Linked DNA regions of Homo sapiens: region 2 is linked to region 1. Evidence: fine-mapped expression QTL. A gene starts in region 1. The other region holds a variant in brackets. All regions are shown on one strand. Distances are between the middles of the regions. Region 1 holds the start of CIP2A (cellular inhibitor of PP2A). Region 2 overlaps DZIP3 (DAZ interacting zinc finger protein 3).

The links. PIP is the estimated chance that this variant, and not a neighbour inherited with it, causes the effect.
Region 2: its variant is the best candidate, but not a certain one, in a credible set for the expression of CIP2A in whole blood (INTERVAL, PIP 0.82).

The regions. Positions count from the first base shown.
Region 1 is chr3:108,587,172-108,591,572 of GRCh38, forward strand. CIP2A (cellular inhibitor of PP2A) reads right to left here and starts at 2,267. Exons shown (of 21, transcript NM_020890.3): 1 at 2,103-2,267. The coding sequence starts at 2,204. DZIP3 (DAZ interacting zinc finger protein 3) reads left to right here and starts at 2,551. Exons shown (of 33, transcript NM_014648.4): 1 at 2,551-2,668. RefSeq lists an enhancer at 2,466-2,745.
Region 2 is chr3:108,612,002-108,616,402 of GRCh38, forward strand. The region is part of intron 4 of DZIP3 (DAZ interacting zinc finger protein 3); the gene reads left to right. Among named protein-coding and RNA genes, the nearest start is that of DZIP3, 24 kb to the left of the region's middle. The variant A/G (reference allele first, on the strand shown) is at 1,815.

The sequences.
Region 1 (4,401 bases):
ACAATTCTACTCCTAAGTATATAAATGTGTGCATATATCCACAAAAAATGTATGTCTACAACAGCTTTATTCTTAATTCCACCCAGAAATGTAAACAACCCAAATGCCTATCAACAGGAAAGTGTATGTAAACTGTGGTACACTTATACAATAGAATTCTACACATCAATAATAAAAAAAATGAAGTAGCGGTACATGTGCAACATGAATTTCACAGATTTTATTGAGTGGAAAAGGCCAGACACAAGAGTACATATTGTATGAGTCTACTTACCCAAACCTTATGTGAAGAGGCAATGAAGAAACCCTATGGGGCTAGAAATGTTCTGTATCATGATACAGGTGGTAGCTACTCTACCTATATGTTAGCTACCAATATGGTAGCTATGGTACCTATATATTAAAAACTATCAAACTCTTCACTTAAGATTAATGCACTTTATGCTCTGTATGTATTTTATCTCTTAATTACAAAAAGTCCTTTTTAGTAGTAACCTGAAGCCAGTGCTCTTCATACCTTTGCAACAACGGTAGAAGAGTTTTATGTAAACCCCTTGAAAGTTTAGGAATACAGTAAAGACCCCATCCCATATTTTGTTTAAGTCTCTCTTTTTTTTTGTTTTGTTTTTGAGACGGAGTCTCACTCTGTCACCCATGTTGGAGTGCAGTGGAGCGATCTCTACTTATGCAACCTCAGCCTCCCGAGTTCAAGCGATTCTCCAGCCTCAGCCTCCCGAGTAGCTGGGACAACAGAGAGACGCCACGCCCAGGTAATTTTTGTATTTTTAGTAGAGACGGGGTTTCGCATGTTGGTCAGGCTGGTCTCAAACTCCCGACCTCAGGTGATCCGCTCGCCTCGGCCTCCCAAAGTGCTGGGATTACAGGTGTAAGCCCCTGTGCCTTAAATCTCTTTCAGTGCACAACCTTCCTGTTTATTCAAAGAAAGGTAATGCTTCAGAATAGCATACAAAATGCTTAACTCCCGATTTTTAAATTAAACGGACTGCCCTGCTTATTCTGCGGCTTCTGGAGCCTATGCTAATTCAGAAGCAAAGCCTTAAGCATTTAACAGCTAACACCTTAATTATTAGGTTTGCAGGCACTTCTTAAAATAAAGAATGAAAAAGAGAAAACAAATGTACTTAGGAGATGGGCACTTGAAGTAGGGAAAAGAGGAGCACCAGTGAAGCTCAAGATAAGACAGACACATTTAATACAACAGCAGCTTCACTAACAGCTGCTGTTGCTCTACTACTGGAAATCATTTTTTTCCTGTAATATTTTACAAATTTTTGGCACATTAGTCTTTTATCATAGGGTTAATATAATACAATATATTTTAAAATTATGTTCAATTCTACCTTAACAGAGGAAAGCTGTGACACAGAGAGTTAAAATAAGCCTTAATTGAGCTTTAAAAAAATTAAACTGAGGTCAATGTTAGTTTGAATTCCGTAAATGCAAAACAAATGAAAGCAGAAGATTAAGATCCTAAAACAAACGGAATCGTCTGGACACATATCACTAGAATAGAAAAAAAGGCAATTCAGCATTCTAAGATTAAAAAACTGTAAGCAATGTATTTTGGTAAAGAAAAAGGATTACGCTTACTAGGAAGGGGAAGTGCTTCTTAATGTTGAAATAATGTTTTTCAAGTTTGAGTTCAACCCGAGTTCAAGTAAGAGCAGTAAGCAACAAATTCAATTATAGATTACCGAAGGGCAAAACCAAGTTTTAATCATGACTTTCCGTCACTGAGAATAGTTGTGTATTGAGGGCTTGGTTTCGTAGAAAAACCAAAACTAGAAGCAAAGGAAAAGATAAAGTTCCGAGCTTTTTCCGTTACCTACTCGAAACAACCTGAACTTCCCAACCTTTTGCCCCACTCCCGCTTTTCCTAGAGCCTTCAGTGAGCGCTCTTGCCTCTCGCTGCGGCCAGCGGAACCCCGACACTCACTAGCCTTTACCAGTACGAAAAGACAACAGAGGGATCGAAGGACTGTCCTTTCTTTCCCAGGCTGGGGCCGCCACTCCTCGGCCTCACTGTGAAATAAGAATTGCTAGGGGAAGCCCCATCTGTCCTCTACCCCAGAGCCTCTCACCTCCAAGTGCCGCAAAAGCTGAGTGGCGTTCGCCTCTGACTTCACGGCTTTGTACTGACTGACAGTCAGGAGCAAGGACTTCAAGCAGGCAGTGGAGTCCATTGCACCGGCCGCGGCCCGGCTTAGGGACCACCACCGCCCAGCGTGCGCCGGCCTTTAGCTTTCGCCGCGCTTTTTTTGATTTTCGGCCCCACCCCCTCGCTCTCAGAAGCTTCCGGATCCGGTCGGGCTCCGGAAGTCCCTAGGCACCCTAGGGGACCGTTCTCGGTGACGGCCGGGGTGGGCCAGGGGTCGAGGTGATTTGTGGGTCCAGGACGGGGGTTGGGAGCTGCCCCCGCTAACCCACCCTCGTCTGAGAGGCCGCGAGGTTTCGGCCTGAGATCCCGTGAAGGCGAGAAATCTCGCGATTTCTCGGGAGAGGAATCGGTTAGGAGAAGGGGGATTCCTCACTCAGCTGTGCGCTCTGATTTCGTGCGCTTCCTCGTCCTTCATGTTGGATGGCCAGTTTTTCGTTTGTGCGTCATCCTCTACCTGAGAAATGGTCGCTTGCCCCTAGTCTAGACACGGTGAGGAGCTCTGAGGAGAAGAATCTTGGGCCCTAGATTTTGAGGCGGCCTGGGAGGGGCCTCGTTTTTAAATCTCTCCTACACCCGCCCCTTCTGCCCGGGGATGGTAGTTTCTCAGAGTCAACCTATTGGCATTATGTGGCAAATTAGTCATGCCCTGACCAAAGTATTTGTCACATTTATTCGAGAAGACTACCTCCTGCTGACCCTGGGCCAGGTATTGCTCCGGAGGGTGTTACTCGTTAGCGTCAGTTTTTGTAAGTGAAGGTGTCTGTTTCTCTCTGGCATGATTGATTGTTTTATAATTCTCGATGTCTACGAAAATGGCACTATTATTTGCGTTTTTTAAATCGGAGATAGCTTAATATTATTGCATGTGTATGTAATGAAGCGAGTCAGTTACTGGTTTTGGAGCTTTTTGCTTAATATTTCCTAACGTCGAATAAAGCTTTAAAAACCAGGATGTAGAAATTGTAAGAATAGGGTACATTTCCATTTAATTAAATCGTTTATCAGAAATCATGTTTTTTCACTTCAAAAGAATTTTTTTGAATTACTAGATTTTTGAAGACAGGTTTGGTGTTTTGGTTTTGTTTTTTATAAAAGTTTAAATCTGAAAGATAAAAATGATTTAACCAGTTGGGACATTCATGTAAAAATCTTTGGGTAGCTTGTGTGTTCATTTATGCTTTCATTCATTCCGTAAACAATTATAGAGCGTGTAACATGGGTTAGAAACTGCCAGTCAGGGAACAGAGATGAAGTAGTATCCCCTGCTGCGAGGGAACTGTCTAGTAAGGGAAACATACAAAATAGTACTTTTGAAATTCACCACATAAATGAGAGGCACCATGCAGTAACATGCAGCAGTGGTAAAGAGTAGAGAGCCAGGTTGCTTACAGATTCTAGCTCCACCTTTGACGATGTGACTCTAGGCAAGTTCTCACTGCTGCAGAATCTTCATTAGGTAAAATCTGGCCAAGGGAGATACCTGGTTCATAGGACTGTTCATTCAATAAGTAGTTCATTGAGAATCTACAATGTGCTAAGCACTTTTCTAGACACAATAGACTCAGTGAAAAAAACAAAAATACTACTGGCATGCAACTTACATTTTGGTAGGGAACCAAATAATAAACACAATAAATAAGTAAGGAAAATGATATAAAGAGAAAAATAGACGTTATTACTCTAGAATAATGTTGGTAATTGATAAGGGAAATGGGAAGGTGACCTCATTAAGAAAGCAACATTTGGGGAAATGCTTCAAGGAGTTGAGAAAGGGAGCCATATTCTATGGGAAAAGGTTTTTAGATAGAGGAAATGGCAAAGAAAGACCCTAAAGTGGGATACTGTATGCCAGAAACAAGGATGCCATGTGGCTAGTGTAGAAAGAACGAGGAGGAGAGGAGTAGAGATGAGGTCCTATACGGTCTTGGAGATGGTTAAAAAATGAATTAATGTAAAGTGTCAGCTGTCATCTGGCATAATTAAGTTCTCAGTGTTACAGTCAGTGCCTCATTGGCAAATGAAGTGATCAGAGTTTGATAGTGTTGGACTTTTCATCTGTGATGATGTGTCAGCATCGTCCCCATTCAGAGGCCCAGGGTAATGCGCAAAGCTGCGTGCTATCAGTGCCATCTTTGTTGGATTTTGACTTAAGCAGTCATACAAATTTTGTATTCTCTTCTGTAATTAATATCAAATGTCTTTCTCAAAAAATCTTCACCAAA
Region 2 (4,401 bases), 25 kb after region 1:
TTTTAAAAATCATATCCAAATATTTGGAATTATTTGTATAATAAATATTCTGGAAGCTATATTGTAGATTTCCATCTTGAAAGTAGTTTTTCTGTATAATTTGTGGTAACTTTCAGCATAAGAAAGATACCATTTCTTAATGGAGTTTTCTGAAGTTAAAGAAAATTATATACTCTTTTCTTTGTGGCAATTAACTAGAGAAGAGAAGGGTAAAGCACCATAGTTGTCTTGAGAAGGCTACATTTGTCTTTCTATGAAAGAATATATGGTTATTTCCATGAAACACATTAATACTATTATGATTAAAAATTCCAACAAACTGAAGATATTCATAAGACTTTATGCACAATTATAACCTTAACCGAGATAATTTACCACAGTATAAGTGAATTCTGGCTAGAAATTGATAGAATAATGCTACCATTTCCCTCTTATCTTTTGGAAATCACTTAGAAACAACAAGACAGAAATCAGTGGCCTTCAGATATGCAAAAAATAGCAACTAGAAGGTAAAAATAGAAGAATAGTACAGTCATCTTTTGGTATCTGTGGGAGGTTAATTCCAGGACACCCCCGGTACAAAAATCCAAGGATGCCCAAGTCTCTTATGTAAAATGACATAGTATTTGCATACAACCTGTACACATTCTCCCGTATGTGTTACACCATCTCTAGATTACATCTAGGTATTACATATCTAATACAATGTAAATGCTATGTAAATAGTTGTTATACTGTATTGTCTTTTCAATTTTTTAAAATTATTGTATTCTTTCTATTTATTTATTTATTTATCAAATATTTTCAATCCATGGTGGGTTGAATCCATGGAGGCAAAACCTGTGGATATGGAGGGCAAACTGTACTTATTTATAATGATAACAAAAGTAAAATACTGAGTAAAATACTTAAGAAATGTACAAGATAAACTAGTATTTCTTTAAGCTTGTTCTAAACCACTTACATGAGAATATCTGACCCCTGTACCAGTTCTAAAGAATCAAAATCTCTGGGGATAGGTCTTTGAATTTGTGTTTTAGTAAGTACCTAAGCACTGATTGTACTCACATTAAATTTAGAAATCAATACTGCATATTAAAACAATAAGTAAAACTTTCTAAAACTCTATTAAAGGTAAGAAATGAGGACCTGAATGGAATAGTACATGTAGGAAGACGCAGTATGTTAAAGCAGTCAATTTTCTATAAATTAAAATCCACAAATATCGCATGATTCCACTAAAATAATGGGATTTTTTTGGTTAGTGTCGCTAAATGCTAAGTCTAAAGTTCACATGGGAAATAAGAGGAAAAATAGCCAAGAAAATTATTTAAGAAAAGTATGAAGGAGTAGGGCTGGGAATTTGCCCACTTAAACATTAAAAGTTGTTATGAAGCTCTAATAACTAAAAGATTGTGTTACTTGTTCTTTATACCTCAGACATATCTAGAAAATAGAAGATAAGTTCCAGAAGTAGGACCAAATATATACAGAACCTTTATGAATGATAAGATGATAAAAATAGATAATACTAAAGGAAAAAGACAAATCAATCCCAGTGGGATATTTTAACATACTTCTCTTATAACTGATATAACATGGACACAGAATTAGTAGACCTACAGCAGACTTGCTCTAATTGAGACACACATGTATAAACACTGCACCCAACAGTGGCAGATTATGCATTCTTTTAAGTGCACACAGAACATTTACAAAAATTGGCCATATGCTAGGTCACAAAGCAAGCCCCATCAGATTTCAGAGTATCAAAATATACAGAGTATGTTCTCTAACTACTCTTCAGTTAATCT[A/G]GAAATCAATAAAAGAGATAATCTAGAAAACCGTATGTTCATAAGGTAAGATATATACCTCTAATCTAGGTAACCAATTGGCCAAAGAAGAAATCACAATAGAAGTTAGATACATTTTTGAACTGAATAAAAATATATATCAAATCTTGTGTTATTAGATAAAGCTGTGCTTCAAGGAGAATTTATAGCTTGAGATGTAAATATTAGAAAAAGAAGCAAGGTTGAATATCAGTTATCTAAGCATGACATTCAAGAAGTTAATGGAAGAACAGCAAATTAAAAGCACTTGAAAAGGAAGTAATAAGGATAGTTAAAACTAATGAAATCTATTTAAAACATAAAATAGAAAGGATCAATAAATCCAAAACTTGCTTTTTTGGAAAGACCAATCAAATTGACAAATGCGTAATAAGTATGTCCAAAACCGAAAGCAAAAATATCCAAAATCATGAATGAACATGAAAACATAAATACAAATACTGTAGTCATTGAAGATAATAGAGATAATTCTGCTACTTGGAGTAGCTACCTGGTTTGTCTCATAGCAACCTGCCTCTGTGAAGAACTTGAAAAACTGGACACATTTTTTTCTAGTAATTCTTATTTTTGCTTTTCTAGTAAATTATTTAATTCAACCTGGGATAGAAATGATTCCAACCTTTACTTAGTTCTTTTGAGGAAGGGTCAGTTTCTCTACCTTTTGTAGCAGATTCTGTCATTGCCCCCCCATACCAATTGGACCCTACCTATATTTTCAGTATGCTCTGGACAATTCTAGTTTTCCATGTCTATATCTCTATGCCTCAGGGCCTTTTTTTCTAGAACAGGAGAAAGCTACTTCTCATGGCAGCTCAGAAGACCCAAGGAATTAATATTCCCCCATCACCCCAGAAAGCACTCAATCAGTAGGTCTTGGGAGTTATTATATGAATATCCCAGTTGCCTCTTCCCTTGAGTTGGTTAATACTGAGGTTTGTATTTTTGAGTTTTCCAAAATTTCCCCGTTGTGATAACCGCAGTGGCCCACCATGGGTAACTAGCATAATAACACATCCTTTAATTAAAACCTACTTTTCCTTCACTTTATTACTTCTCCACTTTCCTACCATTGTCTCTGTACCTCCCAAATAAACTATTTCCATTGAAATCCTTTAATTATGGTCTGCTTCCATTGGAACAAAAACAGGGCCTCAATGAAAAGAATGGGCTGTTTACCAGGGCTGCTCCTCCTTATAGACCATGCACTCCAATTTTCCCCCAAGCCTTGCAAATCTGCTGAAGGCTGTGCCACAACTGAATATGGCAATTACTTTAATGAGAAAAGTAGCTCCAAAAGTCAGTCAAAAGTCAGCTCTCCAGAGATTGCCTTTCAGAGGTTTTTATTTTCATTGTGTTAGTAGTTTTCCATTGCTTTCAGATAATTAGTTTTTATATCTTGTCCCGTTGTTTTAGTTATTCTCATTGGGAGACTGATTTGAAACCACCTAGGCTGTTTGACAGAGGTGGAACTTCAGTATTATGTTTTGTATTTCTATTCAAATTCAAGAGATATTGTTTGAGCTTGGAATGTAGGTGAAGTTCTTGGCTAGAAATGTAAATTTGGAAACTGTCAGTATGTAGACACTATTTAAAATTATGATACTGGGTTACTTTACCTAGAGAACATGTATTGATAGAGAAGAGGCTCATTAAATTGATTGCTAGGGAGACTGAAATAAAGTATCTAGTCAGCTAGGAAAAAAACAGGAAAATGTTATATATGGAAACCAAGTTATGGAAGTGTAGATTAAATTTTCCATGCAGATTATACATTATTAAACAGATTATGTAATATAAACCAAGCCGTTGTGGGTAGAAAACATTGGGGAATGGACACAAAGACATAGTCCTACCTTTCATTTCAACCATGTAAATAAACTATAGTACATAATAAAGCATGCATTAGCTCAGTTGCAATCAGATTGCAGCATAAAATGGTTTACCCTTGTATTGGTATTAATGCCAGCATTCCTGTTTACCACAGGTTCAGGGCTGGAATATTTTAGCTATGTCACACAATAGAAGGTATGAGAGTGAACTGGGATTACCATTTTCCTCTGAAGTAGGTGTGGATGTTGCCAACCCTTTGGCAGGTATAGGAATGCCTTTTTAAAAAATGTTTTAAAGAGGCTGGGCGCAGTGGCTCACGCCTGTAATCCCAGCACTTTAGGAGGCCAAGGCAGGCGGATCACGAGGTCAGGAGACCAAGACCATCCTAGCTAAAATGGTGAAACCCCATCTCTACTAAAAATACAAAAAATTAGCCAGGTGTGGTGGTGGGTGTCTGTAGTCCCAGATACTCAGGAGGCTGAGGCAGGAGAATGGTGTGAACACGGGAGGCGGAGCTTGCAGTGAGCTGAGATTGCGCCAGTGAACTCCAGCCAGGGCGACAGAGCGAGACTCCATCTCAAAAATAAATAAATAAATAAATAAATAAATAAATAAATAAATAAAATAAAATTTAAAATTGTTTTAAGGAAATAGTTACAAACGACATTCATCGGACTACTTAAAAGCAAACATATGAGAACAGTGTATCTGGTTGGTA